Regions from separate parts of the Homo sapiens genome. Here regions 1, 2, 3, 5 and 6 are each linked to region 4. The links come from fine-mapping of genetic effects on gene expression. A gene starts in region 4. Each other region holds a variant in brackets. All regions are shown on one strand. Distances are between the middles of the regions. Region 1 overlaps LINC01881 (long intergenic non-protein coding RNA 1881). Region 2 has its middle 22 kb from the start of PDCD1. Region 3 overlaps LINC01881 (long intergenic non-protein coding RNA 1881). Region 4 holds the start of LINC01237 (long intergenic non-protein coding RNA 1237). Region 5 has its middle 78 kb from the start of LINC01881. Region 6 overlaps LINC01237 (long intergenic non-protein coding RNA 1237).

What was found. PIP is the estimated chance that this variant, and not a neighbour inherited with it, causes the effect.
Region 1: its variant is fine-mapped to the expression of LINC01237 in whole blood (TOPMed, PIP above 0.99). The same link has a PIP of 0.9 or more in T cells, blood mononuclear cells, breast, lung and pituitary.
Region 2: its variant is fine-mapped to the expression of LINC01237 in whole blood (TOPMed, PIP above 0.99).
Region 3: its variant is fine-mapped to the expression of LINC01237 in whole blood (TOPMed, PIP above 0.99).
Region 5: its variant is fine-mapped to the expression of LINC01237 in tibial artery (GTEx, PIP above 0.99). The same link has a PIP of 0.9 or more in vagina.
Region 6: its variant is fine-mapped to the expression of LINC01237 in whole blood (INTERVAL, PIP above 0.99).

The regions. Positions count from the first base shown.
Region 1 is chr2:242,119,951-242,124,036 of GRCh38, reverse strand. The region is part of intron 3 of LINC01881 (long intergenic non-protein coding RNA 1881); the gene reads right to left. It also overlaps the pseudogene CICP10 and the pseudogene SEPTIN14P2. Among named protein-coding and RNA genes, the nearest start is that of LINC01881, 33 kb to the right of the region's middle. The variant G/A (reference allele first, on the strand shown) is at 1,774.
Region 2 is chr2:241,835,292-241,839,377 of GRCh38, reverse strand. No RefSeq gene overlaps it. Among named protein-coding and RNA genes, the nearest start is that of PDCD1, 22 kb to the left of the region's middle. The variant A/G (reference allele first, on the strand shown) is at 1,885.
Region 3 is chr2:242,107,324-242,111,409 of GRCh38, reverse strand. All of the region lies in intron 2 of LINC01881 (long intergenic non-protein coding RNA 1881), which reads right to left. Among named protein-coding and RNA genes, the nearest start is that of LINC01881, 21 kb to the right of the region's middle. The variant A/G (reference allele first, on the strand shown) is at 1,841.
Region 4 is chr2:241,879,573-241,883,658 of GRCh38, reverse strand. It overlaps LINC01237 (long intergenic non-protein coding RNA 1237), which reads right to left and starts at 2,296. Exons shown (of 4, transcript NR_110220.1): 1 at 2,181-2,296; 2 at 1,024-1,099. It overlaps LOC105373978 (a long non-coding RNA gene), which reads left to right and starts at 2,332. Exons shown (of 3, transcript XR_924077.3): 1 at 2,332-2,544; 2 at 2,642-2,790. RefSeq lists an enhancer at 2,276-2,866.
Region 5 is chr2:242,164,282-242,168,367 of GRCh38, reverse strand. No RefSeq gene overlaps it. Among named protein-coding and RNA genes, the nearest start is that of LINC01881, 78 kb to the right of the region's middle. The variant A/G (reference allele first, on the strand shown) is at 2,380.
Region 6 is chr2:241,947,992-241,952,077 of GRCh38, reverse strand. All of the region lies in intron 2 of LINC01237 (long intergenic non-protein coding RNA 1237), which reads right to left. Among named protein-coding and RNA genes, the nearest start is that of LINC01238, 21 kb to the left of the region's middle. RefSeq lists enhancers at 770-1,417, 1,418-2,066. The variant C/T (reference allele first, on the strand shown) is at 1,922.

The DNA.
Region 1 (4,086 bases), 240 kb before region 4:
AAGTTACATTAATTATCTTTTGAAAGTCAATAATCTACATCTTTAATGTATGCATATAGCATAGCTAATGTACTATCGCTGGGTCCATTTATTCAATGAATAATTGCCGCTATGTGTCAGACATTTTTCTAGGCCTAGGAATGGATACATAAGTGAACAAAGCAAAGATTCTGGTTCTTGTAGAGTTTCCATTAAAAGACCATTTAGTAAAACTGTTCTTCCCCCAAATTATAAAATCTGTAAGATGATTTAACAACATGTGTAAAAGTCATTGTGGGCCAGGCACGGTGGCTCATACCAGGTGTGGTGACTCATAGCACTCTGTCACCCAGGCTGGAGTGCAGTGGCACAATCTCTGCTCACTGCAACCTCTGCCTCCTGGGTACAAGCGATTCTCCTGCCTCAGCTTTCTGAGTAGCAAGGACTACAGGTGCACACCATCACACCTGGCTAATTTTTGTACTATTAGTACAGACGGAGTTTCACCATGTTGGCCAGGCTGGTCTCGAACTCCTGACCTCAAAAGATCCGTCTACCTCGGCCTCCCAAAGTGCTGGAATTACAGATGTGAGCCACAATGCCCGGCCTTATTTTCTACAACTTTGGTAACTTTAGCATATACCCCAAATCTGTAAGACATAATATTATAATTCAAATGCAACTCATGGCTTCTCATTGTACTCTTTCTCTAGCTTTTGAATTATTTATTCTAATACCAGTTTTAATTCTGACACAAAAGCATGGGAGTTCTAATCAAAATCCAACCTTTTATCATAAAAACTATGAAGAAATTATGAGTAGAACTTAAAAAGGAAAATAGGCCTATTAATTAGATTTGTCTTTGTAGCATTTAACTCTATAATAAATAACATAATATTTTATGCCTATGAGTACCCAACAAAGCCTCCAGCTTCTATTTAGATATAAAATGTAAAAGTCACTACTGGATCCACAAGCAAGACTATGGTAAAGAAATTTCTCCAGCTAACCAGCTTCTTTTACATGATGTTACATGTTTGTTTTTTCATTTTGGCAAATATTGATTGTCATCTTCGTGTTTGTCTATGTCCCAAGTGCTGGGATACAGAATCTGAAAAGATGGACACAGGACCTGCCTTCAAGTTCACCCTTTTTTTTTGAGATGGAGTTTTGCTCTTGTCGCCCAGGCTGGAGTGTAATGGTGAGATCTCGGCTCACTGCAACCTCCACCTCCAGGGTTCAAGTGATTCTCCTGCCTCAGCCTCCCAAGTAGCTGGGATTACAGGTCCCAGCCACCACGCCTAGCTAATTTTTGTATTTTTAGTAGAGATAGCGTTTCATCATCTTGGTCAGGCTGGTCTCGAACTCCTGACCTCAGGTAGTCGACCCACCTCGGCCTCCTACAGTGCTGAGATTACAGGCATGAGCCATCACGCCCTACTAGGAGTTCACGCTTTAGTTGGGGAAAATATACAATAAGCAAGCCAATTTTTAAAAAGAGAACTGCAATTAGAGTTAAATGCTACAAAGACAATCTCACAGGAAGATGGGATGTAGAATGATAAGGCTCTCAGAATAGTAAGAGAAACTATTGCTTCTTACGATGTTTGTCTTTCTTTGTATCAGTGCTCAGCTGAGTCTGCAGTGCTTCAGAGGCAGCTTTCATTTTATAAAAATCTATGATTTCTCCTTCCAGTTGTTTTTTCTCTTCCTCGAGCTTCCTTATCTCCTCCTGTTGAATCATTTTAAGATGCTCGAATTTGTCCTGCAGCTGTGAAACCAATGTGCAGTTGT[G/A]ACACCAAAGGAGTGTGGCTGAACACCCAAAAGAATATGCTTTTTTGTGATTATCAAACAAACCCAAATCATCACAGTAGAGCACGATCTTAATAACAATCTCAAAAACTCAGGAGTAAACACTCAGATACGGAATTTTTCTTTTCTTTCTTTTTTCCTTTTATAAGATGGAGTCTCACTCTGTTGCCCAGGCTGGAGTGCACTGGTGCGATCTCAGCTCACTGCAACCTCCATCTCCCAGTTCAAGTGATTCTCCTGCCTCAGCCTCTTGAGTAGCTGGGACTATAGGCATGCACCACCACTACAGGCGTGTGCCACCACACCTGTCTAATTTTTGTATTTTTAGTAGAGATGGGGTTTTGCCATGTTGGCCAGGCTGGTCTCGAACTCCTGACCTCAGGTGATCCTCCCGCTTTGGCCTCCCAAAGACCTTTTTTTTTTTTTTTTTAATATAGAGACAAGTTCTCAGTATGTTGCCCAGGCTGGTCTCAAACTCCTGAGCTCAAGTGATCCTCCCACGTCAGCTTCCCAAAGTGCTGGGACTGACCGGATGCAGTGGCTCATGCTTGTAAACTCAGCACTTTGGGAGGCCAAGGTGGGAGGATCACTTGAGCCCAGGAGTTCAAGACCAGACTGGGTGATATAACACAATAGTAAACTTCAACAGGAGAGAGAATCTGTAAACTTGAATATAGATCTTCTGAAATTATCCAGTCAGAGGACAAAGAAAAAAAGAATAAAAAAGAGAAAAGAAGGCTGGGCGTGGTGGCTCAAGCCTGTAATCCCAACACTTTGGGAGGCCGAGGCAGGCAGATTAAGAGGTCAGGAGTTCAAGACCAGCCTGGCCAACATGACAAAACCCCATCTCTACTAAAAATACAAAAATTAGCCTGGTGTGGTGGCACACACCTGTAGTCCCAGCTACTTGGGAGGCTGAGGCAGGAGAATCGCTTGAACCCAGGAGGCGGAGGTTGGAGTGCAATGTGAGCCGAGACCACACATTGCACTCCAGCCTGGGTGACAGAGCACGACTCTGTCTCAAAAAAAAAAAAAGAAAAAAAAAGAGACAGAGAAAAGAAAGCCAACAAGACACCATTAGGCAAACCATTGTCAGGTTATGGGAGTTTGAGAAGGAAAGTAGAGAAAGGAGAAGAAAGCTCATTTAAAGAATGGCTGAAAACTGCCTAAATCATGGGAAAGATTTAGACATCTAAATCCATGAAGCTTAAAGATTCCTAAAGAGGTTCAAACCAAATAGATACTCACCAAGTCACAATATAATCAAATAGTCAAAAGTTAAAGAAACTTTGCAGGTCAGGACAGAATCGAATAATACATTCAAAGTGCTGAAAGAAAAAAACTGCCAGCAACTAATACTATGTCTGACAAAGCTGTCCTTTAGAAAGAAAGAAGAAATAACGTGTTTCCTCGACAAACAAAGCTGAGGGCATTCAGGACCACTAGGTCTACCTTAAAAAAATGCTGCGGATCACGAGGTCAGGAGATCGAGACCATCCCGGCTAAAACGGTGAAACCCCGTCTCTACTAAAAATACAAAAAATTAGCCGGGCGTAGTGGCGGGCGCCTGTAGTCCCAGCTACTTGGGAGGCTGAGGCAGGAGAATGGCGTGAACCCGGGAGGCGGAGCTTGCAGTGAGCCGAGATCCCGCCACTGCACTCCAGCCTGGGCGACAGAGCGAGACTCCGTCTCAAAAAAAAAAAAAAAAAAAAATGCTTAAGGGAGTTTTTCAAGTAAAAATGAATGAAGTTGGGAGCGGTGGCTCATGCCTGTAATCCCATTTTGGGAGGCCGAGGTGGGTGGATCACCTGAGGTCGGGAGGTCAAGACCAGCCTGGCCAACATGGCAAAACCCCACCTCCAGTAAAAATACAAAAAAGTAGCCAGGTATGAAGGCCACTGAGATCGTGCCACTGCACTCCAGCCTGGGTGACAAGAGTCAAACTACATTTCAAAAACAAAAAACAAAACAAACAAAAAAAAAAACTTGAGGCCTGGCCTTCTGCTCCTCTCCAACCTCCCCTTCTCTGGGCCCAAGCCACCTTGGCTGAGGAGGGGGCGAGGAGGTGTGAGCCCCTGCCAGGAACCCCCTGCCCAGACCAAGTACTCGGCCCCCAGGCCTGCGTTCAGTGAGGCCTCCCGTGGCGTCAGCATGTTCGTGTGGAGGAATGTGGAAGTTCACTCTGTGGCCGTGTTCCCCTGGTACTCCATCCCCTTCCTGACCCCCCCTCCCCCCCGCAGCTACACGAGGCCCAGCAACCTGCCAGTCACTCAGTGGCCTCCAACCAGAGAAAAC
Region 2 (4,086 bases), 44 kb after region 4:
GTACACTAATTAATATAAAACCAAAAGTTTTCGGTTAGAGAAAAGTTTTGTTAAAATAATAATTTGCTATTAATAAAATTTGATGTTTAGGTGGGCGCGGTGGCTCACACCTGTAATCTCAACATTTTGCGAGGCCGAGGCAAGTGGGTCACCTGAAGTCAGAAGTTCGAGACCAGCCCGACCAACATGGTGAAACCCTGTCTCTACTAAAAATACAAAAATTAGCCAGGCGTGGTGGTGGACACCTGTGATCCCAGCTGCTCAGGAGGCTGAGGCAGGAGAATCGCTTGAACCTGGGAGGCGGAGGTTGCAATGAGCCGAGATTGTGCCACTGCACTCCAGCCTGGTAACAAAGCAAGACTCCATCTCAAAAAAAAAAAAAATTGATGTTTAATTCTGTGTTGATCCTTGCCTTCTGTTCTTGTGCCCTTGCCAAGGTGTATCTTTTTGCTTGGTTGGGATGATAACCTTCCCTTTCAGCCTTTTTTTTCATCAGCTCCTGTAACTTTCTTTTCCAATTGTAACTACTGCTGTGGCCTGATGCTGAAATGTTGATCTTAAAGGTCTAGAAAAGCAATGTTTTCCTTCATATAACTTGATTCTGTACTCTTGGCTTTTCTTGTTATACATTGTTCAGTATAGCCAGGAAACTTCTCATGCTGTTACTAAGAGTCATGCATTGCCCTGCTCAAGGTGCTGGTTTTCTTGTTTCCTTTCCTCCATAACATCAGGTACACTCATGACCCTAGACACACTCTTCCTGCACCTGACTAAATTCAAATATCCTTTTTCATCAGGTTTGACTTGCAGGTTAGCTCAATGGGCTTCCAGAGGAGAAACAATGACTGCAGAAGGTGTTTCTTTGCCTTTTGAGTAACTGGCCTCAAAAAACGAAGATTTTGCATTTTATCAAGATAATTTCCAGTGTCATTTTTATTTGGTTTTTTGATTGCTTATGAAAACTGAGCTTGTTTTTACATCCATGTAACTTTCTGCCTTGCCATTGAAGATGGCAATGGTTACATGAGTAACTATTATTTTACAATGACCTAGGATTCTATTTTGATCAAATGTTTTGAGCCTTTTAACATCTTTCACAAAAGTCCTCAAAATCAAATCCTACATTAAGCATCTCACTTAGACTTATTGCAGGCAGGATCATCAAAGCTATAAAAATGAATCATTACGAGATTATACATATTTTTTTGAGACAGAGTCTCACTCTGTTGCCCAGGCTGGAGTGCAGTGGCACAGTCATAGCTCACCGCAGCCTCGAACTCCTGGGTTCAAGTGAACCCAAAGTGCTGGGATTATAGGAGTGAGCCTCCACACCTGGCCTGTAAAATCTTTTTGCAGCTTCCAGTTGTGTCATGAACTCCAAAATCACCACCTCCAGCCTGCTGATTACATACACTGGAAGAAACATCAGTTACAGGACTCTTTCCCCTGCACTTTGGAAGGGTCCTTAAAAGGTACTATTAACAAATCCATGTGCTACCAAGTTACAGGGAGTTGACTCCTGGGCACACATAGAGTATGAGTCTGTTTTCACACTGCTATAGAGAACTGCCCGAGACTGGGTAATTTATAAACAAAAGAGGTGACAGCCAGAGGAAGATGCAAAGGAAAGGCATCCCAGGCAGGGAGCATTGCAGCTACAAATGCCCCGAGAGCCTGTATGAGTTTGATTTCACACGCTGTAAAGACACTACCTGAGACGGGGTAATTTATCAACAAAAGAGGGTTCATTAACTCACAGTTCCCCATGGCTGGGGAAGCCTCAGGAAACTTAGAATCATGGTGGAAGGTGAAGGGGAAGCAAGGTACGTCTTAATTTAATTTTGCGTTCATCCTGTTCATCATGGCAGGGGAGAGAGAAAGAGC[A/G]AAGGGGGAAGAGCCCCTTATCGAACCATCAGATCTCGAGAGAATTCACTCAGTATCACGAGAACAGCGTGGGGGAAACAAGCTCCCATGACCCAATCAGCTCCCACCAGGTCCCTCCCTCAACACATGGGGATTACAATTCGAGATGAGATTTGGGTGGGGACACACAGCCAAACCGTATCACATCACCTAAAAAAGGCACCAACTCCTGCTGAATCTTGAACATTCCACACTGGTATCTGAAACCAAACTCAAGCTAACCAAAGCCTTGTCTTCAGATCCGGGGGAAGACAACCATCGAAGTGAACGGCTTTCATGAGACACAGGGCTGGGTTTATACTCCAAGACGTTAAGACATTTCATAGTTTTCCCTCTATCTGAATTAATATAATTTGCTCTATGTCTTAGTACTATATACTTTAGATGTTTAGCTACCTGTGAGCTTCCTTTTCCTGTTCTTATCAGAACTGAACAGCGCTTATTGCCTTTGTATTTAAAGTGTTACTGATTCTTTGTTTTGTTTTCCAAAGTCAAGAAAACCTTTTTTCTTTTAACCTATTTATAGGTGACAGAAACTGAGTAAAATAACAAAGTTCAGCTTTCTCTCTCTACCTTCTACCTCCAGAATTCAAAAACTATTCATGAGCATTCTTACTTACAGCAATATGGTGGTTTGCATAAGTTCAATAAGAATACATTTTCTTTTGTAACAGGACACTTTGGGGATATTATTTTAACAAGACCTTTGACTGAAATAACACTTTCCGATAAAGTTCCAGCAAAGCCAATTTAAAAAGAGCCTACACGGCCAGCTGCTATTCCTGCTGCAATTTACACAAATGATCAAGCCAAATAGAATAAGACTAAAACTTATTTTGTACACAAATTGGTCTTATTATTATTTCTCTGTGGTAGAAAGGGGGAACTAAAGAGATGAAAAAAATTACGTTTCAAAAGAAAACACTTGTTCTGCAATTCCAGCCCCGACCACTGTTCTTGAGTTTTATTTTTTGCCTATAATTCAAACTGAGTCTTGAATTATCTCTTGGCTACACATCTCTAAAGAGGATCCAGGTTGTAATTTTCTTCATGATCGTTTTAGTTGGCTCCCTAATGGGGTTGATTCCTTTCTTCCTGTTAGGGGCGCATAAATTCTTGTTGAGAGGCAAAGCCAGCTGGACTTCCTGGGTGGCGTGGGGACTTGCAGAAATTTTCTGTCTTACAAGAGGATTGTAAAACGCACCAATCAGAGCTCTGTAGCTAGGATTGTAAAACGCACCAGTCAGAGCTCTGTAGCTAGCAAGGGGATCGTAAAACACATCAATCAGCGCTCTGTAAAAATGCACCAATCAGCGCTCTGTAGCTAGCAAGAGGATTGTAAAATGCACCAATCAGCGCTCTGTAAAATACACCAATCTGCACTCTGTAAAATGCACCAATCAGCAGGATCCTAAAAGTAGCCAATCACAGGGAGGATTGAAAAAAGGGCACTCTGATGGGACAAAAATGGAACATGGGAGGGGACAAATAGGGAATAAAAGCTGGCCACCCCAGCCAGCAGCAACAACCTGCTCAGGTCCCCTTCCATGGTGTGGAAGCTTTGTTCTCTTGCTCTTCACAATAAACCTTGCTACTGCTCACCCTTTGGATGTGTGCCATCTTTGAGAGCTGTAACACTCACTGCAAAAGTCCGTGGCTTCATTCTTGAAGTCAGCGAGACCACGAAACCACCAAAGGAACCAACTCCAGACACATTATGCCTGTACGTTATAATTCTACCACTCAAATTATTAATGCCATTTATCTCTCAAATCTCTCTCATTCAAAGTCTCCTGGAGCTGTTGCTGAAGCTATACCATATCAAGCACCCTCTGTCTAGGCCCAGGGACTGCTGAGGAAGAGAAGGGGGCGTGAGATGGTAAGGGCTGGCTTCAAAGGATAAAACTAGTTCAGGCTGGGTGCGGTGGCTCATGCCTGTAATCCCACCACTTTGGGAGGCCAAGGCAGGCGGATCATCCAAGGTCAGGAGTTCGAGACCAGCCTGGCCGACATGGTGAAACCCGTCTCTACTAAAAATACAAAAACTAGCTTCACATGGTGGCACGCGCTTGTAATCCCAGCTACTCTGGAGGCTGACGCAGGAGAATGGCTTGAACCCGGGAGGCAGAGGTTGCAGTGAGCCGAGATCATGCCACTGCACTC
Region 3 (4,086 bases), 230 kb before region 4:
CCAAATAGAAGTAAACGAGAGCCAAGAACGGAACTATTTCTCATAATTAAACCCCAATTTCTATAAATTACAATCCTCATTCTAGTGATGACCTATAATAAGATTTGCATTTTCCTCTGATGGTATTTTCCTTAAGAGATGGATAACAAGGTCTTAATCTTCATCTCCCAGACCACTCTAGGGTTCTAAGCACAGGCTTTACAGAAATGTGCTGTTATGGGCCATCATCTTCAAATCATTTCCACACAAGTCTAGGAAAATAAGACAGGCTAGGATAAGCCTCCGGTTTTTAAAATTGCTAATCAAGGGCATCAGTTCTTAACTATATTGCTGTAAGATATGTCACAAAACTTTTGTTACCAGTAAGAAAAATGACCAACATTTGTGAATGATTTAATTTTTAATAATTATTAAAGTACTACACTACACATAATAAAAAATAATACATACTCATAAACTCAACTTCCCTGAGTTGCCAGTAGGAAGCAACCCTGCCGAGCCCTTGATTTTGGATTTCTGGCCTCCAGAATTGTGAGGACATACATTTCTGTGGTTTTAAGCCACCGAGTTTGTGGTTATGGAATCCCAGAAAATGAATAAAATTATCTATCTTTTCAAGCTACTTCAGTTTGATATTGATTATGAAAGGTACATATATGCTATCAAACAGAAGAGACTTTAGGGAGAAAAAATCTCGCATAAATGCAACAAGTTGCCATGACTCTAAGTGCCAAGGTCATATAACATGCAGACTGTGATAATTTCACCAAAACCAAAACAAAGTGGAACAAATCCTCAAACACAGTTGCTGATAATTCCCACCCTGGCCTCCTCTGACATTTCCTTTGGATCAATTTGGCTGCACCTCTTCTGTCAAGCAGGAGCTGGAGGACATTTTGGTCAGCTCCTCCCCAGAAGGGAGCTACAATCTCTGCTCTAACAATCCCCAATTGTTGTCTTAAGTTAGACTGTGTTCATCAATGGCTACCTACTAAACTTAGCTTTTTATCTGTACATTTTCCAATCAGGTCGTATTATTTTCTCCTGGTAGGCAAATGTTTACATTTATCCATTTTCCTGATATAAAGCTACTTCGTATCAGTGTGTTATTAGTCTCTAATTATAAGAAGATAATCCAGAAGAGAAAGTCCAGTCAATTTTATATAAGTTAAAAAAAAGATGTGAAACCTATTTTCAGAATTAACATTTCCTTCCTAAATATCTAACACAACACACAGAAGAGAAAGTCCAGTCAATTTTATATAAGTTAAAAAAAAGATGTGAAACCTATTTTCAGAATTAACATTTCCTTCCTAAACATCTAACACGACACACTTACGGACTCTTAACACACCCTTCTTACACGAAGGGAGCAGCAGAGCAGAGGGCGGCAAGAGCACCAAGGCCAGGTGGAGCCACTGCCTATGTGGGCCCATCTCATTCCGCAGGGAGAAGCAACCGCACTGTGCACAGAGTGCAATCTGGCAGAAGGGAAACGCCGTCTTAAAGAGCTTCAGATGCAGCAACCTCGAGGAAGGGCTGTGCCAGAAAGTCCACCAGATGAGGCCGCAAACCTATCAAAGGGCATCAGACACTCTGTGCACAGGGTACACAAAACAATGCCTCCCACATTCTGTGACTTCCTGCGTGTGCCACTTGGACCACCACACTCCCTACCTGCACCATCTTACCTGGACAGACTAAATCTCAGCCACCTCATGACTAGGATATTAACATGGCTTCCAGTTCTATAAATTCCTCCCCCTTAAGAATGCATGTCCAGAAATGATGAAAACTGGACTTGTGAGTAGCTTTGTAGTAGGGATTACAGGTCCAGAAT[A/G]GAATAGGTTCAGTAACATATTTAAGATATTTAAGGGAAAAAATATAAGCCAAAGATTTAACATCTAAATAGTGACTATCAAGGGTAAAAGTCACACATATTTTTTATGAGTACACACAAACACAGGAAGTACAGTGACCAGGAGCTGAGGGATGACCCACTAAAGAATAAGCTCCAGAAACCAAAATGACTAGAGGCAGATGCAAAGGTGAGCTGCAGGTGGTCTGTATTTATCTGTGGAGCTGCTGGCACATGACGGTGATAAAAGTGCAGCATGCCATGGTTACCAGCTTGGACAATGCAGACAAAGAACAACCACCAGAGAAGTGGTAGGGGCGGGCAGAAGATGTGCAGGAGCCAACTGGGACTGGGGTGTCCATCAGCTAACTGCAGTATCAGGTACTATGGGGAGCCAACCAAAGAAACTAAGTGTTTGCTATAAAGGCATTAGGATAAAAGTGGGAAAAAAAAGGGAGGAAGAAAGCCCTCTTAAATACCAAAAGGGTAAAAGCAAATAAAATAGAACAAGGTGGTTCCCTGTTATCTGTGATGTAAAAAATGGACTTGGCTCACCTATTAAATGGAAAACAGTCTTGGATTGGCTCACAAAGCAAAATCAAACACCATACTGCATATAAGATATACAGCTATAAAAGGCTGGGAAAATATATAGAGAATTTATAGGACTCAGAAAAAAAGTAACTGTCACAGGAAACTTTATAGCATTAAATACCTATATCAACACAAATTTAAATAATAAAAATAAATTATTTAAACATATAACTGAAAAAGCCAGAAAAAGAATAAGTGAACCAAAAGAAAGGGGTGAATTATTACAAATAAAAGCAGATATTATTAAGTAGAAAAAGAATAGAACTAAGAAGTAAATCCAAAAGCTGGCTCTCAAGAGAAAATAATCAACCAAAACAAACCACTAGGTATCTGATTAGAAAAAAAAAAAATAAGAAAGTTACAAGTGCTAACAGAAGAAAACTTAAACATTGTAAAAGATAAGGAAAAGAAAGGGATAGAGAGAAAAATGTGTAGATTAAAAGAGACTTTAAAAACATATCAAATTTTAAGAATAAAACAACACTAAACTATAGTGTCTAGGGATATACACTTGGTGATAAAACTATAAAGATTAGGGAAATGATTACCATTAAGAGTTTGGGAAGTGGTTATTTTTGAGGAGAGGAAGTAGGTTATAATAGAAATGGGACATGTGGTGGGCGCTTCTGGGATGATTGATAAAGTTCTATTCCTTGACCTGGGTGTGGTTACAAGGATGTTTCCTTTATAAAAATGAAGAAAAACATTAAAAAATCATTACAGGCAACTTTATAAAACTCTTTGCAGTAAGTTAGAAGTAGATGAAACATTTTTAAAAAATATTAAATTTAATGCTATTCCAATACAAAATCAAGTTTTTTTCTTAGAGCTAAACAAGTTAATTATAAAATGCATTTAAGAACAAGAAGAAACTATCCTAAAATTCATATGGAATGAAAAGAGAGCCCAAATAGCCAAAGCAATCCTAAGCAAAAAGAACAAAGCCAGAGGCATCACACTACTCAACTTCAAACTATACTATACAGCCCCAGTAACCAAAACAGCTTCTGTACTGGTACAAAAACAGACTCACAGACCAATGAACAGAACAGAAAACTCAGAAATAAAGCCACACACCTACAACCATCCAATCTTTGACAAGGCCAGCAAAAGCAGCAGTGGAAAAAGACCATCCTATTCAATATATGGTGTTGGAATAACTAGCTAGCCACATACAGAAGACTGAAGCCAGACCCCTACCTTTCACCATATACAAAAATTAACTCAAAATATATTAAAGATTTCAATGTAAGACCTCAAACTGTAAGATCCTGGAAGATAACCTAGGAAATACTCTTCTTGACGTTGGCCTTGGCAAAGAATTTTTGGCTAAGTTCCCAAAAACAATTGCAACAAAAACAAAAATTGGCAAGTAGAACTTAACTAAATGAAAGAGCTTCTGCACAGCAAGAGAAACTATTGACAGAGAATACAGACAACCTACGGAATGAGAGAAACTATTTGCAAACTATGCATCTGACAAAGGCCTAATATCCAGAATCTACAGGGAACTTATGCAAAAAAACAAACGACCCCATTAACAAATGGGCAAAGGAGTGAGCGGAAATTGCGCCACTGCACTCCAGCCTGGGCGTCAGAGTGAGACTCCGTCTCAAAAAAAAAAAAAATGGGCA
Region 4 (4,086 bases):
ACGGTGAAACCCCGTCTCTACTAAAAAAAATACAAAAAAATTAGCCAGGCGTGGTGGCGGGTGCCTGTGGTCCCAGCTACTCGGGAGGCTAAGGCAGGAGAATGGCGTGAACCCGAGAGGTGGAGCTTGCAGCGAGCCAAGATCGCGCCACTGCACTCCAGCTTGGGCAATGGAGCAAGACTCTGTCTGAAAAAGAAAAAAAAAAGAAAAAAGAATAGAAAAAGGAAAAGATACACAGTGCCAATTCTGTGCATAAGAAAATAGCCCTGGAACACTCACATTAGACCAGGTAGCACCCCTGAAGATAAAGAGGGACATTCCATGATGACACCATGGTCAGCCACTGTCAGGATCACAGAAAAATCCTAAATGCCTAAAAAGATAATAACAGTTTCAAAAAACACGAAGTAAAAACGGACGGAACTGAAAGAATAGAGAAATTCACTGTCCTAGTTGGAGATGTAACAGCTCTCTCGGGACTGCAAGCACAGCGGGTGGGACAGGAAGGATTCGCCGGTTTAAAGAGCACTGTCAACCAGCTGCACCTCATTAACTCTTGGCGAGCATCCCACCCCACAGCTGCAGAACACAAGTAATTTTTGAGTGTATACGGAGCATTTACAAAGATAGGGCTTATGTTAAACAGTAAGAATAAGTCTCTGTAATTTTAAAAAGTGAGATCCTGCAGTTTGTTCCTTGATCAAAATGGAATTAAATCAGTAATAGCAAGATTCCTTTTAGACTCTCCACATATTTGGAAAGTGGGCAATACTCTTCTAAATATGCTTCTCAGAATAGAGGGTTTAAAAAATAAATACACACATAAAGAGATTCTTCTAAATAAAGCATGGGTCAAAGAAGAAATCCAAAGAAAATTAGCACTTATTTCAAATATCCATCAAAATATTACACAAAAATTGTAGCATAGTCTTAGAGGAAGATTTGTGACTTTAAATACTGACGACATTTCAACAAAGAAGGTACACAGTGATCAATACACTCATGAAAGGGTGTTCAACTCACCCGTCACAAGGAAATGCAAACTAACGCCTCACTGAGATCTGCCAAACTTCTGGTGCCGACTGTGACCTGGCCGCGCCTGCGGGGGGCAGAGGAGAGAAGGAGACTGGGGGTGAGGTCCACGTGTCCCAGGCAGGGGGACAGAGGCCAGAAGAAAGTGGCTGCGGGTGAGATCCACATGTCCCAGCCAGGGACGGAGAGGAGGGAGAACCGGACAGCAGCATCTGCTTCCAGCCACGTCACGTGTTTGGAGAGGCGGTGTCACCTCAGTGTGAGGAATGGCCACTCAGGACACGTCTGGACTTCCTCCCAGCCACCTCTCACCAGGGATCAGAATCCCGGCCCCGGGGACCCTCGACCCATAAACATCTTGGGCCTACAGCACCACCAAGCACGCCACAGCCTTGGCCTGGGGCTGCTTCAGAGACACCGCACGGAGGGCTTCTCACTTCCCCAGCCAGGAGCCACCCACGCTGCACCCGGGGAGGCCCCAGTTGCATCTGTCCCACCTTTCAGACCGAGCCAGCCAGAGGCGCCCAGAAAGACTATGCCAGGCCTCAGCTGTGTTGAAACCCAGGTTGGGGACAGTGGCAGGACCTGTGCCAGCGTCTGCCCTTGCTCCTGGCTGGATTCAGTTACTTGGCTGGGCCCCAGTGAAGGCGCAGAGGGCACCACCACCTGCACAGGAAGGGAAGGAAGCCCACAGCAGAGCCAGCACACGTGTGGCCACGCCCCGGCCCAGCCCCCCCTCACACGTGGCCACACCCCCTGCCCAGCCCCCTTACATGTGGCCACACCTCCGATCAGCCCCCTTCCACACGTGGTCACGCCCCCTGTTCAGCCTCCTCGCACATGACCACGCCCCCGTCCAGCCCCCGCACACAGGGCCACTCCTCTAGCCCAGCCCCTCACACGCGTGACCACGCCCCTTAGTCTCCTCGCTCGTGGCCACGCCCCCTGCACGGCCCCCTCGCGCGTGGCCACACCCCTGTCCAGCCACACACACACACACACACACACACACACACACACACACACACACACGCTGGGCCACGCCCCTACCCAGCCCCCTCACACGTATGGGCACGCCCCTGCTCAGCGCCCTCACACGCATGGCCACCCCCCGTCCAGCCCCTTAACGCGTGCTGCCCCGTGCCCACCTACAGCGGCCTCCTCCGCACCAGGGCTGACCCAGTGTGGGGTCCAGGTGGGCTCTGGTAGGCCCCCGGGCAGAGCTGTGCCCCGCGTCACTGAGGATGCACAGAGAAAAAGGAAGGGGCGGAGGAAGCGGAAACCCGAGCAGCGCTGCCTGGGCGTGGCAAGCCCGCTAGTTTTCCCGCCCGCTCATCTGCTTTCCCTCCCTCCATAATAAGTGTGGCACCTGGAGTGTGTGACTTTCATGATTTTCTTTTAGGAGAAACATAACGCAGTCCTCTGTCCCGCCCCTCCTGCAGGGAATGGTCATGGGGGCGTAGTTAACCCCATGCGTGCGGAGGTACACCTTGGAGCCCAGCGCCGACACAGGTCAGGAGAGTGTTAGCCACTGCTGAATGACTCCTGTTGTGTGCAAAATTGTTTTGACTTTTAAAGACTACACACAACCCATTCTGCCATTATTTAGGGTGAATTATACTGCTGGGTCACAAGAAGAAGACGTGGCTCCTCTTGATGCTGAGGGAGGCCTGGAAGTCATTGCTGGGAGCTTGGGAAGAGGGCTCCCCGAGGCAGAGCCTCCCAGGGGACAGAGGCGGCCCAGCGATGACCTGGGAGGTGAGCACAGGTGTGCGGGGCCCCTCGGGGCCCACCATAAGGCCCCACAGCAGGCCCTAACCTCCCCCATGTGTCCTAAGGCAGTTCCATTTGCATTGGCAATGGTCATTTCACTACTTCTGACCTGGAAGCGAGGTATATGTTTGGAGGTGACACGAGGCTCCCAAAGGGGTGCTATAGGGCGCCTTTTCTTATTTTATAAAACTTACATCGAAATGAGCCGCACCCTGAGGGGCAGCCCACCTGCTCACCCCTGGAGGGACTCTCCCAGGGCTGAGGGTCTTCCCCAGATGCTTCACCCGGGCTCCTCCAAGTGTGGGGTGGCCTTCAGTCTGCTGCGAAGAGGATGTGGGGTGTCTGGCAGCCACTCTGCTCTGGATTTGCGGGAACCTCTGCTGCCTCCCTGGTGCCCCTTGATTGGCGCTGGGTCTAGGAACCCCCTCTGGGTTGGAACTGGACTTGAAAAGGTCATTTTCTGCCTGCACCCACCAAGGCCACCTGGGGCTGTGGAGCCAGGAAACCCCTGTCACTCTCCTCAGATGCTGGCCCGAGGGCACCCTCAGTCTCCCTGAGTCCAAATCACCTTTTCTTCCCAAATGACCCAGCAGCCTAGGCCAGCCCCAGCTGGAAAGACTGCTCCCCTCTCTCCTCCGCTCTGCTCCCCTGCCCTCTCTTCCCCTCCCCTCCCTTCCTTTCTTCTGCTGGCGGAAGTCCTGTGCCAATCCCACATCCACATCCGTCACTGCACTCCTGGATCACACCTGGACAGACACAGAACTAGTCCTGGGAGTGATCCCAGGGCCAGGACCCTAGTAATGAGTTATCTAAATGTCTCTGGGTGTCTGGAATTGGTTCTCTGCTCCAACTAGCTTTAAAGGCATTCACGCTCTGTTCCCAGGGGTACCAGGGTGCTAGCTGCCCACAGGAGTAGCATACAGGCACTCAGATTGCCACCTGCAGACATCTGTAATCAAATGGCCATAGGATGCCTGGCCCTGGGCATCAAGGGAAAAATTTAGGGGTGTAGCTGGGTGGGCGGATGCTTCTAAGTGTGCTGGAGAACTTGGGGAAAAAGAGAAAGGCCTCCAATTTAGCCCCCAAAGTCCCAGGCAAACAGGGACACTTGCCATAACAGGTGGAGACATTCCCCAAAGGCTGGGAGGCAGAGTGGAGGCATCGCCAGGACCCCAGCCCTCTGCTGCCTCTCCTGTACAGAGGTACAAAGTCCCAGGCCCCAGAAGGAAAGGGAAGGAGATCCCCGAACCTCTGCTCCAGCTAGGACCTCACTGAGGCCCA
Region 5 (4,086 bases), 280 kb before region 4:
AAGAGCCCAAAATGAAAGCTTGGGATAAATATCTGAGGGTGTCTAATATCCCAGTTTTTCATCCTAGAATGGGCAGAGTCCTTGACCCCATTCTAGGGAGACTTCCAAAAGAAAAAAGACCTGCATTTCTTCAACAACCCACATAGAGAGACTTTCCTGCACTTTTGACCTGTGGCTAACACTCCTTACCTTTCATTCTGTCATCAGTGTTTTAGGGAAACACCTTTAACTCTCTACGATTTACAGGTTATTAAGTGGCGCTTACAATTCCCTCCAGAGGTGAAAAAGACATAATGATGGTGTCTGAGCTCACAGCAGCAAGCAGGCGTGTGTGCTCAGCAGCCACGTGGCTCATCTGCTAGGAGCTTGCTAAATACGATGTTCTACAACATTGCTTAACACAAGGGGAGACGCTCCTGACTTGGAGAGTTTAATTGCTCACCTACTTCTTTTTCTGCCCTCTTGGGCTTCTAAAATGAAAAGAACCCTGGGGTGATAAAGTGAGTCAAAGGGGTACCAGGTGCATCACAGCAAAATAGATTCCTAAAAAATCCCTGGCCTAAGATGATACCCTTGGCTGGATACGTTTGAATGTGCTGATAGTGGACATGGTAGAGTGAAGGTGGTTGAAATGTTCATATTAAAGAACTTCCACCCAGATTGCAAGAAAAGAGAGAGGAATGGAGATGGCAGCACGAGTCCCTACAATAAAAGCAGATGTTTTGAGACCGGTTATATTTCTTCCGACAAAAATTAAAGACAGAAACCAAAGTTTAGCCTGAGGCTACAATTAATTGGGCAATAAGCCGAAGGCACATATGGCATAGACAGATTTAAACATTTCTCCCTTATATTAATACAAATACTAAAATTACAAATACTTTGATTCCAAATAAAACAAATATTTAAAAAATTTAATGAATAAACACTGGGGTCTACAGTAGTATTTGAAGGAGATCTCACAAACAGGTTTGGTTTTTGAAGGTTAGAACTGGTGGTCTAGAGAATTCATTTCATTCCAGAGAGAGAAAGAGAGGAATTTCTTGGGTTCCTTCAGGAATGTGTCTAGCTTTGCCTCATGTTTGTTTGAACGATGGATACGGCAGAAGAAAGCATGAGGATTTCACAGATTTAAGGTGCAAAAAGTCACTGGGTTCTCTAAGAAGTCTGGGATTCTTCTGCTGCAAAAATAAGTTTGTTGAGAAAAAATGAGTTGGAGGAGGCTGTTATTGAAGTGAAGCAGAATTGTTTTTACTAATCTGCTTATTACCCACTCTGCAGTGTGGAAACAAATTATTCATGCACAAGGTCCTCTTACTGTTCCTAGAATGCAGTGGAAAGAGAACAGATTAGTTTTTCTCACTCAGAACACAACCCCTAGAAACATCCTACCTCAGATGAGATATTGCCTAATTATTTTCAAAGGACAGTGAAAAATTATGGATGTAATGTTTGCTGCAAAATTAATACATGCTAGAAACAGAAGCATCTGGGTCACAGCTATATTAGAGCTATCTGTGTTCCCCTGTCACTGAGATTAAAACAAAAATGTCCAATACAATCACTCACAGCATGGGAGAGGGGAAGTTGAAGGATGGAAAGGCCAGGCATAAAAGGATTTCAGAATTTCCGTCCATAAGGAAGTAGCTTTGTGCATTGTCTGTTACTGTGTGCAAGGTGAAGTTTGGAGAATGAAAACGTGCAGTAACAACGGCTCCTTTGTCCCTCTCACCTCTCCAGATACCAAGTTTCAGACATGTTGCATTTTAGTTGAAAGGTTGATATAATTTTTTTTAAAGAACACTTGCGGTGTTTGAAGTGACAAAGGCTGCTGTGACAAAAAAGCAGGGAAAGGGATTTTTTTTAAAAAGCAAACAACAACAACAAAAACCCCACAGAAAAGCAAACAACAAACAAACAAAAAACAGAGGAAGAAGTTGAACACCCTGGGCTGTGACTACTTCCAGGAAGGGGCTACAAGAGGCAGTTGGAAATTCTATTTGCTTTGCAACTGTGGGTCTTCCAGCCTGCTTCCTTTCTAAAGTATATTACTCTGCTTTTGGTTCATGAAATTATCCATTTCTGTTTTCTGGAACAGCTATGTATTTTCTTTATCTATCATCTATCTATCTACCTGCCTATCATCTATCTATCTATTTACTATCTATCTTTTCTACCTTTCGCTATCAAGAGCTTGGGTCAAGCAGGATAGAATTCCAGTGTATATTCACTCTACCATTTAAAACAAGAGCTCTTGTAGGCATTCTCCATCACATCATAAACCTGAGCTTTCTAAAACAGGGTGTGGCAAACTACCATGCATGGACCAGGTCTGACACAGTCTGCGTTTGTAAGTAAAGTTGTAATGGGACACAGCCA[A/G]TACATGTGTTAAAAAACGTCTCTGGTTACTTTCATGGTATAATGGAAGACCTGAGTCATTAAGAGAGAGACCATATGGCTTGGAAAACTTAAAATATTTAACATTTAGCCCTTTGCAGAAAATATTTGCTGACTCTTGTTTTAAGAGATCTCTGTTTAGAATGCTACCTATTGCCTTCTGGATAGAATCACAACTCTTTACCACGATCAACACAGCTTCAGCCCTGCTTCTATATCCAGCCTCATCTATTTCTGCTCCTCCTCCTTATTTTCCTTCCGGACATGCTGATGAATTGTCAGCTTCCCAGATGTGTGAGAATCTCTCCTCCCTTCCCAGCATTCTCATGCTCTCCCTCTGCCTCTCAAGAACTTCCTGCCCCATCTCTCATGACAAATCCCTTCTTCATTCTTTAAGATGCAGCCCCTTTGCTCCTTCCTTAAAGATGTCTATCTGGCTCTATTTTGGGTGACATGCTCCTTCTGCATCTCCCAGAGCCACCCTGTGTGTGTCAGCTACAGCATTTCTTTGCATCTCTGTGTCATATATCACCAAATCTGCCTAACCTTGAGTGAGTCACTGCATGACAACTTCAGACTCCACCAGCATTGTCCCCACCAATCAATTATTTTCAACCATTTAAAAATGTAAAAATCATTCTTGCTTCATGGGCCATACAGAAACAGATGGTGGGCAGAGTTGGCCCAGGGGCAGACCACTGTTTGCTGACCACTGCCACACTGTCTTAATCAAGGCAGCTTTTATGGTGAGCCATGGTATCTAGTAATTTCTCCCATTTTTGTCCCTTTTAAGGGCCCTTACTTGGCCCTTTGCATTTCCATATAAATTTTATAATTAATTTGCAGATGTCCACAAAAAAGCCTATTAGAATTTTAATGGGACAGCTAATGCTAGAAGGGTAATTTTAGGAGAAACAAGAGATGCTTATAAGTTGTGTGTGTGTGTGTGTGAGAGAGAGAGAGAGAGACACAGAGAGAGAGAAAGAGACAGAGAGAGAGAGAGACAGACAGAGACAGAGAGAGACAGGGTTTCACTCTTGCCCAGGCTGGAATGCAACGGTGCAATCATGGCTCACTGTAGCCTCGACCTCCTAGGCTTAAGCAATCCTCCCACATCAGCCTTCCAAGGAGCCAAGACTACAAATGTATACCAACACACCTACCTAATTTTTTTGACTTTTAGTAGAGATGGGGTTTCACCATGTTGCCCAGGCTGGTCTCAAATTCCTGGGCTCAAGTGATCCACCCACCTTGGCCTCCCAAAGTACTGGGATTATGGGTATGAGCCACCATGCCTGGCCTTTTAAAAAAGTTTGAGACAGGGTCTCACTCTGTCACCCAGGGTGGAGTGCAGTGGTGTGATCATGGCTCACTGTAGCCTCAACCTCCTGGCTCAAGTGATCCTACCACCTCAGTCTTCCATGTAGCTGGGACTACAGCTGCGTGCCACCACATCTGGCTCATTTTTTTTTTCTTTTTTAAGTAGAGACAGGGACTTGCTATGTTGCCCAGGCTAGTCTCAAACTCCTAAGCACAAGCGATCCTCCCGCCTCGGCCCCTGAAAGTGCTGGGATTGCAGGCATGAGCCACCACACCCGGCCAAAAGTTGCTTTTGAGGAGTTATTGCTGTGTGGATGTGATATAACCCTTTCTGTCATCTCTTCACAAAACTTTCTGTAAAACATAAAA
Region 6 (4,086 bases), 68 kb before region 4:
CCGATGAGAGCACCCAATGCCCCACTGCAGTGATGGGCTCAGAGGTGGGCACAAGGCCCCAGCCAGTGCCAGCGTCTCAATCAGAGGCTCCTGTTTGAACTGCTGGGAAGAGGAAATCTCAGAGTAGACTTGAGGCTGCAAAGAAATGACCGTGGCTGCCAGGAGCTGGCAGGAGGAGAAATCTGGGGGACTCATTTCAGAGGAAGGCATGGGTAAGAGATAGAGACCACTGAAGCCCCTAGATCCACCCATTCCTGAATGCCCCTTTGCAGTTAGTAATTGCATACATCAACAACCCCTGCCCCTTCAATGACATTCTTTTTCTGGCTTTTATCAGCTTGAATTGAGTTCCTGATGACTGCAAACAAAAGAGTCCCACTCAAGTAGTTGTTGGTGCCGTTTTTGAGTTTAGGGCACTTCTGACTTTGAAGTTAAACAGTTAAACACTTGAAAGGAATGCAGTCGGTATGGAGGTTTTTGTTTTTACTTATTTGTTGCTGTTATTTTACACAAAACAGGAGTTTCAAACATCTGGAGGCTTTTAAGGATGGGGATAATTTCTCACAGCAGCCTTAAATGCTTTGAGGTGAAGCCTCCTGTTTCTCACTGAACTTATCTTCTCAAACATCTGGGCGGCTTTAAGCATTGCATTTAAGCAAACACTCTAAACTTGTGAAGCAGGAGAAGAAAATAGGAGGCTCAATGCCCCATGGGGTTTACAGTGCAGGGGTAACTTCTGGGGGTGAAAGGAGGGACAATGCGGCCAAGAGCTAGTGGGGCCCAGCTGCTCCTCACCCCATCACCTGCAACAAACCTCGAGGCTGCCACGCGACCAGGCGAGGCCCCGCCCTGCAGCACACGGCCCTAACCCCACTCGGGGCTCCACATTCTGCCTGGAGAAAGGTCGCGGGGGCTTGCGGACGGCAGCTGCATTCCCACAGGGAATACCCCAATGGCATCGCCATTCCATCTCAGCCCCAGCAGCTCCAACCAGCACGGGCCCCGCCTGCTGACCCCCAATGCCCCTTAGCCTTTCGCCAGCCTGGGAATTTTCAAGGCTCCACGATTTCATCGCAAACAGCAAGCGCTCCACCTAGTGGACAGAAGCCGGAGCTGCCTCCCGAGACGGTGAGGACCAGCTGCAGGGTTCATCCAGCCGGGGCTGGAGCCTTCGCTTCTTTCTCCGGCGAGTCCCACTCCCTTCACTGACAAGAGGAGGCAGCGGCATCAGGAAGACGTCACCGTGGTTCTTCAAACCCAAGAGTCAAACCTGTCCACAGGGTCGATGGTTACACAATTCTCTCGTTTCCGTAAACTGCCCCTACGCCAAGGTTTATTTACTCTAAAGAGGTGTGGGGTCCTGGCAGCAGGGGCCCAAGGAGGCGTGGATTCCGCCAGGACGAGGGGTGTGACGGCCTCACCTGCGTCTCACGCTGGCTTTGCAACCACAGGTTTGTGAAAATAAATGAAACGCATTATTCACTGTGCCCATTCGGCTCCAAACAGCAGGTCACTGTTGTGCAAGAATGACCCAGAGGATGGCAGGGGAGATGGCGAGGCAGGTCACACACGTCCTAAACAATGGAGCCTTACCCACCCCAAACACACGCACACACAGACACGGGAAAACACAGGCATATATGCAGACACACACGTGTGTTCACACACAACCATGAAACACAGAAAGACACTTGTACGCACAGACAAGCCCTGAGACAGCATGCGCACACAGACACGTGTGCACACACACATGCACACCTGTGCTCACACATGGACCCATGCACACCTGTGCTCACACACGGACCCATGCACACAGACACACGCATGCACACCTGTGCTCGCACACGGACCCATGCACACAGACACACACATGCACACCTGTGCTCATGCACGGACCCATGCACACAGAAACAGAGAAACA[C/T]ACCCACACAGCCGCATGTGTGCACATATTCATGCACACACACACAGGGACACGCTTCCCTCACACAGACTCCCCCTTTAGGCCCACCCTCCCAGCCTCCAGCACAGGCCAGGTGGAGCACCTGTGGTCAGGAAAGATGGAGACAGGGGAAGCACAGCCCTTTTCAGGGAGGACAGGAGGACCGAGGATCATGGCCTCTCTTAAGGAGGATTCCGGGGGATAGGAGGAGCACGGCTCCTTCCAGGAAGGATGGGGGTTGGGGCGAGCGTGGCTCCTCTAAGGGCATGGGAGATGGGGGGAGCCTGGCTCCTCTCGGGGGGACAGGCTGTGGGGGAGCAGGCACCTCCCAGGACAAGGGGTGCTGTGGTCCCCGCAGCTTCGTGCTGGCACTGGTGGCTGGCTCACACAGCCTTTCTGGAACTTTAGTCCTCCCTCAGAGCAATTTGGGAACTGGAGTTAGGGCCAGCGAGGATGAGGGGGCACATAAGAGATGAGAGGACCTCACCCAAAGCACACCCCAAGCCAGGGCTCCTGCCTCCCCTGGCTCCCTCTGCCTCCGTCCCCCTTGTGAGGTGGGGTCCCCGGTGCTGCTCTCCCCACGGCCCCCTGACCGCGGCTGTACAGGTTTCTTCTCACACCAGTAAGTCCTCAACTCCCACCCGGCCCAGGGAGGGCTCACCCACTCTCCACAGGCATTGAGCCCACAAGACGCCCCCACTTCCAACGCCCACGGTACATGGAGCACCCCTGGCCCCCGGCTTCCAGATTCAGCAGAACAGCTCCCAGGACGTGGAGGCGCCTCACTGTCACCCGCCTGGGAGAGGCACACGCCAGGCAAAAGAGAGGTTGGGGGGCCTCCGGGAACCACCATGGTCACTGCCATGCAGGCCCCTGGACCCTCATTTGGGGTTTTTTATGGGGTTCCAGACATGACCGATTAGGCCACAGGCCTCTGGGGACTGACCCCATCCGGGCCTCTCCCTCTCGGGTGGGGTGGGGTTGGGTGCGCCGGGCTGACCCGCACCGGTTCTACTGGCAACCAGCCCACCCTCCGGGAGCCGCCCCCTTAGCATCGAAGAGTGAGAAGATCCAGAGTGGGAGCTCCGTGCCCACAAGCTGGACAGAGACTGCGTCTCCTTCTGTGATGCTGCAGCAAAGGGGTCCGGAGAGGCCACCGCGTCCCTGCCCACCAGGGCTTCTCCAGCCTCCTCCAGCCAGGGATCAACCCCCACATGCAACCTTTCTCCTCTGCCCTGTGCCCCGCAGCCCTGCTCACCCACCTCACACACACGTACAGTCACACAGACATACAATGACACACCATCACACAAAATCACACATCCACCCCATCACACACAATCACACACAGACACACACCATCACACCCATGCAGTCACTCACACACCATCACGCACACACAATCACACACCATCACACCAGACACACCATCACACATACACACATAGACACATACACGTGCAGCCACACAGACACGGTCACACATCACACACACAGACACAATCACATGTGCAGACACCATCACACACACAGAATCACACACAGACACATGCACAATCAAACATACCATCACACACCAAGACACACACATCATTATGCACAGACACATGATCACACACGGACACAATCACACACACACACAGAGACACACATGATTACACATCACACACAGACACAATCACACACAGAGACACACATGATTACACATCACACACAGACACACACAGAGACACACACGATTACACATTATCACACACAGACCCACACATCACACAGACACAATCACACATGATCACACGTAGACACACAATCACATATAGACACAGACATACACACCACACAGACACACACATGAACACACACAGACACGTCGCCGAAGCACTGCTCAAGTCCCATTCGGGGCTGGAGCCCTCGACCCTCTCACAGGAGGCCGACGTGGCCGCCAGGCTCTGCTTCCCCGTGCACAGCTCACCGACCGCAGGTGAGGGCGCTGGCTGAGCAGACCCGGCCTCCCATGCAGGGGGAGAAAGAGGCTCCTGGGGCGCCCTCCACCACCCAGGTGTGGACAGAAGACCAGGCTCAGCAGGAGACTCTGCAAGAACCAGATGAGAACCCTCATCTGACTCGGAGCCAGGGTCCAGGAGGCT